Regions from separate parts of the Homo sapiens genome. Here region 2 is linked to region 1. Evidence: fine-mapped expression QTL. A gene starts in region 1. The other region holds a variant in brackets. All regions are shown on one strand. Distances are from middle to middle. Region 1 holds the start of SEC22C (SEC22 homolog C, vesicle trafficking protein). Region 2 overlaps LOC124906232 (a long non-coding RNA gene).

Region 1 (4,388 bases):
AATTCCACAAGGACAAAGGCAGCTTCAGAATGTTCATACAAGAGACACTGGAATGTCTTCCAGATCTTACCAGATCCTTCCACAAGGCAGTGGATGTCATAACCTACCACCTTGCCTGGTACATATTAGGAAGCACTCAGTAAACACTGCTAAGTTAAATGAATGAATGACCTAAGGGCTGCCTTATTTTTGCTCACTGAAACAAGAAATGCAGGTTTACAGATCCCTTGCCATAGTTCTGATCTACAGTTTGAACACTTTTCCACAATAAATCTGTATTTGGAGAGAAAAAGAGAAAGGTTTATACAGATGAAATTTGTCTAAAAGTAGAGTGAAGTAGTAATCAAATACACAGCATCCGTGTTACTAGGTTTTATAAAAACATATTTTAATTTGCCTCCCTTATTTCCTAAATCTTCTTCCCAGCATCTGTTTATAAACTGCTCATGTCATAGATTATCTCTGTTCTATTAACAAAGACTTTATGCCTATGCTGCAGGCTACCCTTGATCCTGTTTTTTCTTCCACCTTTTACCCTTAACCCCTCCTCAAGCCCCTACCACATGCACTGAGAGAGAGAGAGGCTGAGAGAGACAGAAAGAAAGAGAAAAACAGAGAGAAAGAGAGAGATGACTGCACCTTGCAAAATAGGAATTTAGACAAAACAGGCTTCATTTGGCACACAAATATTCAAACACAAAGTGTTCACCATAAAGTATATACAGAATACAGAAGACTCAAATACACAATACAGAAGACAAAACTGAGTTGTGCCACCCTTACTGAATTCACCTTCAGCCACAGGACTTGAGAACTGGTTACCAAATCTGTAGATTCTATTAAGGCTCCAAGTTGCTTGGGGATGGAGTGAAGAGGAGGGTAGAGGTCAGTTTCGTCATTTGTTAGGAACTAAGAGGGGTAGGGAACTAAACTTGATAGGACCTTTTACACTGATAATGTTATTAAATGCTTGTAACTATAAGGTAGACATAATCTATACCGGATAGGTGGGAAAACTGCAGCTGTAAGGCTCAAGAGGTAAAGCTAGATTCAACCCAGACTTCCTTACTTCAAATATTCTAAAGCCTAGGATCTTTCCACCACATCCTTCTTCTACAAATCCAACTTTGGGAATTACAGCTACTCCCTTTCTCTAAAATAATTTCTTCTCCTTAGAGCACTAATAAGCTAATCAGAGACCTGTTGGTAGAGGAAGGAGCCTGAGATTACACTTGTTACAACTGCTCTTTATCCACTGTATTACCTTGAAGTCAGGTTGTCCTCTCTATGATCATGTTACTTTTTGAATTTAGTTGATTTCTAAGTTATTCTAAGAATAAAAAACACTGACTCCAAGATGGCTTCTGTTGCAAATGCAAACACTTAAATCAGAGCTATTAACATTGTCCAAAATGTACTTTCCAGAGGAAACACTATTTGTTTATTTAATTCTATCTGGCAACGTTAAACCATTTCCAGTTGCTTCCATTTTTCATTTTACTAAAATTATCTTTAGTGGGATCAACTCTTCTCTGCAAAATGTAATTAAATATTACCCTATATGTTGGTTCTGAGCTGTATTTTTTTCTGACCATGTCACAAATTTCACCAATTACTTTTCACACTGGCAATAGTCTTCCGTGGCTTTTATTTCTACAAACCTAATTTTTCCCCGAGTGCTTTATCCTTCTGGCTCTGGAGGTACATGTGTAAATCTGTAATGAACACAAAACCTGTAATGGAACGTCCTACACCTAGTGCTCTGAAAAGTTGGTTCAGTGTATCCAATATTTAAAGTCTAATAACACGGGCATGCTAAGGGAAGTTTGCTATTCAGATTAAACAATGCTCTGACGTGAGCTTCGTGAATGGTTAAAGAAACAATCGTCCCCTTTCTCACTCCCCATCTCTTCCAACTGGGAGAAGCCCTTGGCGCCCATCTGTCAGCCCAGGGTTCCTGCAGGCGCGTGCCTTGGGTGGCCCCGGGGTCCGGGAACAGGCTGACGGGAGAAAGGGGACAGAGGACTCCAAGAAGCCCAGTGAAGCCCCGTGGGGAGCCCCATGGTCAAGGCCGGGACTGAGGGCCGGGTGGGCCCTGGGCCGCCTCCACCTCTGGGCCCGCCCTGCGCCACACCCTAACCCGCCTGCTCTTGGCTAACGGGCCGCGGCACCCGCCTCCGCCCGCCAGCCCTCACCTCGCCCGGACGGCGGCCTTCGGAAGTCGGCGCCTGCCAGCTACCCGCCGCCTCCTCAGCAATCTTAGCCGACCGGGAGGGCTCGGCCCAGGTCACCGGCAGCCCAGGCGCAGGTAGGCCGTGGTGCGCGTGCGCGAGTCTTGAGCCACCCCACCTCCCCCCTACCCCGCATTCGCTGCTGCTAAGCGACACCCGCACCCAAACCGACCAATCCCGGCGCGCCTCCACAGCCCCCGTCCCGGCGAAGGCGCGAACGTAGTGGTTCTTAAAGGGCTGCGACCCAAACGGAGAGGGAGTGTGACGGGGGCGCGCGCCTCCCAACTTTCTTCCCACCTCCCGGCTCTCACCGCGGCGGTTTGAGATCCAAGCCTGTAATTCTCACGTCCGGAGGTGAGAAGGAGCCTTCGTGATCTAAGCTCGATTCCTGCCGGGGTAGCAACCGGACTGACGTCTGGAGGCGGGGAGGCTCCGCGTGACAGAGTGATAACGCCCGGGGCGTATGTTCTGCGGTCCGCGCGGCTGGGCGGGAGGCCCGAGATAGGCAAACCAAAGAGCACAACCTACTGCCAGCCTGGATGGGGCGCCAAAGTCCGACCCAGGGGGACACACCCCAAGCTGGGGACCGAGGCACCCACAGATGGATGACTGGCTGGAAGGAGATTAGGTAGGTAGCAGAGTCCGTCCATTTATTCATTTAGCAAGTATTGAGCACCTGCTATGTGCCAGGGGTTGTGGACAAAGCGAGGAATTCCTGACACGAAAAACTATGTTAAGAGAGGAGGCAGGGTGAGAGCACCCTTCAAACAATCAAACACCTGTATAAATACAAACTGCTCTTCAGGGAGGAGCAGGGGTTTTGGGAGAATTTACAGAAGCTTCTAGGCTGGTGTTGGGAATCACAGGAGGCTAACTAGGCAAAGGGGAGAGGAAGTGTGTTTCAGATGGAGAGATTAGCATGTATATAAGAACTCTGTGGAAGGCAGCAGAGCTCCTTTGAGGGATGAAAAGAAACCCAGAAAGGGGGAAATGGAAAGTTAGTGCTTAATAGGTACAGAATTTCAGCTGGAGAAGATGAAACAGTTCTGGAAATGGATAGTAGTGATGATCACACAACAATGTGAATGTACCAAATGCCACAGATCTGCACACTTAAAAATGGTTATGTACATTTTACCACAAAAAGAAAAGAAACTCAGAGTTTAGAGAATAAAGGAGTGGAGTGAGATCCACTAGAGCGAATAGAAGGGGCAGGACCATGTAGGATTTTATGGACCATAGTGGAAAGTTTAGGACCATAGAACACTGGTCAAAATTGCATTTTATAAAACTCACTTTGGCTGCTAAAGTGCAGATCAAAATGGAGAAGTCTCAACAGAGCTATGGTGGGACTGGCCTGGGAGCCAGTGCAGTCATCTGGGCAAGAGAGAATGGAGCTGGAGTGTGGACTAGGGTGAGAGTGAAGAAAAAGAGATCTAAGAAGGCTGCAGAGAAATGTAGGAGCAAAATCAATAGGACTTGGTGATGAGTTGGATGTGAAGGGGCGATGAAGCAGCTTCAAGGATGATGCCACTGTTCAGCCTTGGATAAATGGATGGATGGTGCAGGGATTCACAGATATGGAGAACACTGGAAGAGGAGATAAGATTGATCTTGAGCTCCATCTTAGACAAGTTGAATTTGAGGCACCTTTGAGACTTGGTTAGGATTTTGCGATGATTAGTTTTAGATGTCAACCTGACTAGGTTAAGGGATACTCAGGTAGCTGGGGGAACATTACTTCTGGGTATGTCTATGAGGGTGTTCCCAGAAGATATTGGCATTTAAGTCAATGGACTGAGTAAGGAAGATCTGTCCTCATCTAATATGCGCAGGCACCACATAATAGAACAAAAAGGCAGAGGAAAGGCAAATTCTCTACTCTGGAGTTGGGACACCCCTCTTCTGCCCTTGGCATCAGAATTCCCCGTTCCCCTAATCTCCTAACTCTAGGAGATTAGGTAGTAGAGTCCGTCCATTTATTCATTTAGCAAGTATTGAGCCTTTGGACTCCAAGACTTGTACCAGTGGTTCCCCAGGTTCTCCCGGCTTGGGCCTTGGACTGGGAGATACACCATTCAGCTTCCCTGGTTCTGAGGCCAAGTCTAAGACAGGGTAGTCTTGAACTGAAGCAGTCTACCAGCCTCCCTGGTTCTC
Region 2 (4,388 bases), 88 kb after region 1:
GGCAAGGGCAGCGGTGGGGGATGGGGGATGGGCAAATAGGTGGGTCTTGGGTCAGATGCAGAGGGGCATGAAAGAGGAGAAGTCCTGAAGGCAATGGCCACAAGAGGCCAGGGCCTGTGCAGGTGTGGTTTCCCATGAGCACCAGGCATGGAGCCACAGTAGCTCTGGGACAGCAGGGACCGGTGCTCCCACTTATGTGCTGAGCCCTGGGGATGCTGTGATGAGCAGTATGGACTCATTCCTCCCTCGGCAGGCAGGGGAGGTCAGAAGGGGCCAGATAACAGAGATGCTGACTCAGGCACCCGGGAAGACAAAAGCTCAGATGGAAGACAGGTGGTAGCCTCCAGAGGAGCAGATGGCTCTCCCTGGGGAACTCAGAATTGTTTCATGGCACAAGTAGTATATACAGAGAGCACTCACTCCATGCCAAATGGAATTCTAGGCCCCGGGGACACGTGCAGAATGAGCCTCCTTGTGGCACTTAACTCTGTATATGTAGAAAAGGGTCAGACAGGACTGGGAGGGACTGGGAGAGAAGTCTCATGGGTGGATTTGTTGACTGGCCAGAAAGGAGGTGCAGGTTCCTAGGATGTTGGCACTGCCTTTCTGCACAGTCCTGCTATGAATGGAAGAAACACAGGCTTGCTCAAGAGACCCTGAAACAAGGCTGGCTGACAGGCCTGGGGGCCTGGCTGCTCCCCCAACTCTTGTGCAGATTCCACTCATCTCTGTGTTTCCACTCTGTTGACCTCCTCCTATATCAGGTTGCATGACACCTCTTTTTCCTCCAGCCCTCCCCCCACCTCCCTCATTCTCACAGCATTTCCACCTTCACACTCCAGAGTCTTGGACACTGTCATCCTAGGCTCTGGGGCAGAGGCCTCTGGGTGGCTGTGGGATGGTGGGCACCACGATTGGTGTCTCTGGAGCACTCACTTTCCCTGATCTTGCTCTTTGGGACCAAGCAGCTCACTAACATCTCATGTCCTGAAGCATGCATAGGTCAGAGCAGCACTGCCTTGCTGGGGAAGGCCGGACTTTCCTTCTTTCTAAAGGATCAATGAGGGGAGGTGAGGCACCCTGGCTTAGTGGTGCTTTTGGGCCTACCTACCCCCTGATTATGTAGCTTTCTAGAACCAGGACTGGTGAATAAGTCAGGTTAGGCTGAGTTCTGCTGCAGTAACAAACCACCTCCTAACCTCAGTGACTCAACATCTGTGGCTCTGAGGGGATGTTCCAGGGCAGTCATTCTCTATTTGGTGGCCCAGAATTCCAGGCTTTGACCTTGGGGCACCTCCATATCAACATGGGCCTCTAGACTGAACAGAGCCAGGGAAAAGACAGGTTGGAGAATCACACCTTGGCTCTTCAGTGCTGCCATCCAGAAGTGGTGTATCACTGCTGTTTCTGTGTCATCATCCAAAGCAAGTTCTGGCATCATGCCTTACTTCAGGGGGGTGTGGACACGCAACCCTCCTGTGTGGCCGGAAGGAGAGGAGAGCTGGAAAGATCGTTGAGTAGCTGCCAGGCACGGTGGCTCACGCCTGTAATCCCAGCACTTTGGGAGGCTGAGGCGAGCAGATCACTCAAAGTCAGGAGTTCAAGACCTTCCTGGCCAACATGGTGAAACCCCATCTCTAATGAAAAAAAAAAATTAGCCAGGCATGGTGGCATGCATCTGTAATCCCAGCTACTCAGGAGGCTGAGGCAAAAGGATCATTACGATCATTAGAACCTGGGAGGCGGAGGTTGCAGTGAGCCGAGATCACGCCACTGCACTCCAGCCTAGGTGACAGAGCAAGATTCTGTCTCAAAGAAAAAAAAAAGATAGGTGAGTAGCCATATCCTTTCCTACACTTGGGCCTTGCAGTCTCCAGAGGTCAGGTTGAGAGGTATCCAGCCTGTAGAGCTGCTTTCTAAAGTCTCTGGAGGGTCAGCAATAAAATAGAGGAGCACTGCCTCCTAAGGTTCCACTGGCTGCAGATGGGATGAACCTCCTGCCACCACAGATGACAGCCTTGGGACCTGTGGAGAATGGAGAAGAGAATGGGATCCCACACAGGGAAGGAAAAGCAGCTCCAAAGGACCCCACCTTGAACTTCCCCATCACTCCCGCCTCTCTCCAGCTAGAGATAGGGCTTCTGGAAACCCCTGTGGCCAAAACTATGCCTGTGTACCTGGGAAGCTGTGGCCTAAGACTATAACTCTCATGTGTTGGGGACACTTTGTGGTCACTCTTCACCATAACCTTCTGAGACTGCTGATAACCTAAGCAAAGGAGCTCAGAGAGGTAAAGCCACTTGCACACAGCCAGAAAGTGGTGGAGCCAGATGCGAACCCAAGTCTGTC[C/T]GATCCCAAAGCCACGTTCTCTAAGCTCTGAACAATGCCACGTCCCCTTCATTCAGCACAGTACTTGGTACACAGTGGCATTCAGGAGAGCATGGCAGTGGGTGGTGAACCAGGGCTATTGGTTGCAAACAGAAGAACCAATTAAATCTCTAGGAGAACCAGAGACTCAGCCTTTGGGGTTATGCAGCCAAAAACAAACCCAAACCACCCTGCACCACTTGCCCTAGGGGAGGCGTGACTGTCATCCCAGCTTGGAACTAACAATGCTGAAGGCTACTCATAAGAAGCTCTGTCTCGACTGCCCCTCCCACCAAAACTAAACCCCTCTCTGCCCCACCCTCAGAGAACACAAGTCTGCAGTATATTTCATTGCTTTCCTCTTACCTGAATCAGTCTTATGTGGGTGTGTCTAAGTGTCAGATCTGTCACGTTTATGCCCTAGTGATGCAGGACAGGCGAGTCTCAAAATTGGGGCTTAGCCTGGGAGAGTTCTTGGCTTCACCTAGGAAAGAATTCAAGGGTGAGCCGGAGGTGTTAGCGACTTTTAGTGAAGCAGCAGCAGAGGTACTGGTACTGTGGAACAGCGCTACCCTATAGGCAGTGTTCCCAGAATAGCAGCTCCGAGGCAGGACTGCAGTCATACTTATACCCACTTTGACTTACATGCAAATTAAGGGGGGATTATGCAGAAATTTCTAGGAAAAGGTTGGTATCTTCCATAGAAAGGGGCAGTAACTTTCAGGTGTTGCCATGGCAATGGTAAACTGACATGGCACACTTGTGGGCATGTCTTATGCAAAGCTGCTGCTTCCACTCCATCCCTGTTTCAGCTAGTCCTCATTAGGTCTGGTGTCCAAGCCCCGCCTCCAGAGTTGAGTCCAACCTCCTACTTCACTAGCTGCAAGGGAGGCTGGGGAAGCAAGTTGTGTTTTCTATGTTGGGTAGGTGGAATGCCCTATGTACTTCATTCCCAATCAGAAAAAGGCTTTGCAAACATGCTGGGTGGCCACAAAGTATAACAAACATGCCCCACAATCTAGCCCTTCACAGCCCAACAACAGCATACACCCTCTTCCATACAACAGGAACAACAAAATGCTATTGATTAACAACCTTCCTCATAATAAATAAAAACGTATTCATCCTCTTCCCAAAAGGGGACACTGTAATTTCTCATCACTGACTGCATCTGGCTCCAAATCCAGGATCTGCTGGTAATTGCCGCTCCTTTCCTGTGATCCCATTTGGTGTTCTGAAATGTGGGGACTGTATTGTTAAATGGAACCATCAGCAACCAGGCTCTTTATAAAACAGAAGGAGACTATGAGGGGAAAAAATTAATATATATACATACATCTTTTCCAGTGTGATGGTTAGTTTTAGGTGTACTCTTAACTGAATGAAGGGACACCGAGATAGCTGGTAAGGGCATGATTTTTGGGTGTGTCTGTGAGGGTGTTTTGGGAAGAGATCACCATTTGAATCAGTAGACTGAGTAAAGATGATCCCCCCTCATCCAATATAAGTGGACACCATCCAGTCTATTGAGGGCCTGGATGGAACAAAAAGGCAGAAGAAAAGTGAATTCACTCTCTCTTCTGGAGCCAGGACATCCATCATCTCCTGCCCTCAGACATCAGAACTCCAGGTTCCCCTGCGTTTCGCCTTGGACTGGGAGTTACATCATCACCTCCTCTTGATCTCAGGCCTTCAGATTCAAACTGAATTACATCACCAGCTTTCCTGGGTCTCCAACCTGCAGAGGACAGATTGTGGAACTTTTCGGCCTCCATAATCACATGAGCCAATGCCCATAATACACCCCCTCTTATATCTCTTTATTCTATTGATTCTGTTTCTCTGCAGAGCCCTGACTTATTAATATACACATCAAGGAAGACAAAACAGGAAGATGTTCCATCCTACTTAGCCACAGGTCATGAGGTCAAGATGGTGCTATTGTCTGAATGCTGGTGTCCCCCCACCAAACCCCAAATTCACCTGTTGGAACCTAAAACACGATGCCACAGTATAAAGAG

Evidence for each region. PIP is the estimated chance that this variant, and not a neighbour inherited with it, causes the effect. A credible set is the group of variants that fine-mapping cannot tell apart.
Region 2: its variant is the best candidate, but not a certain one, in a credible set for the expression of SEC22C in testis (GTEx, PIP 0.87).

Annotation. Positions count from the first base shown.
Region 1 is chr3:42,579,651-42,584,038 of GRCh38, forward strand. It overlaps SEC22C (SEC22 homolog C, vesicle trafficking protein), which reads right to left and starts at 2,317. Exons shown (of 7, transcript NM_032970.4): 1 at 2,196-2,317. It also overlaps a transcript of SS18L2 not described here. RefSeq lists enhancers at 1,784-2,610, 2,603-2,732 and a silencer at 2,073-2,402.
Region 2 is chr3:42,667,678-42,672,065 of GRCh38, forward strand. LOC124906232 (a long non-coding RNA gene) reads right to left here. Exons shown (of 3, transcript XR_007095893.1): 2 at 2,734-2,851; 3 at 1-2,025. Among named protein-coding and RNA genes, the nearest start is that of ZBTB47-AS1, 15 kb to the left of the region's middle. The variant C/T (reference allele first, on the strand shown) is at 2,350.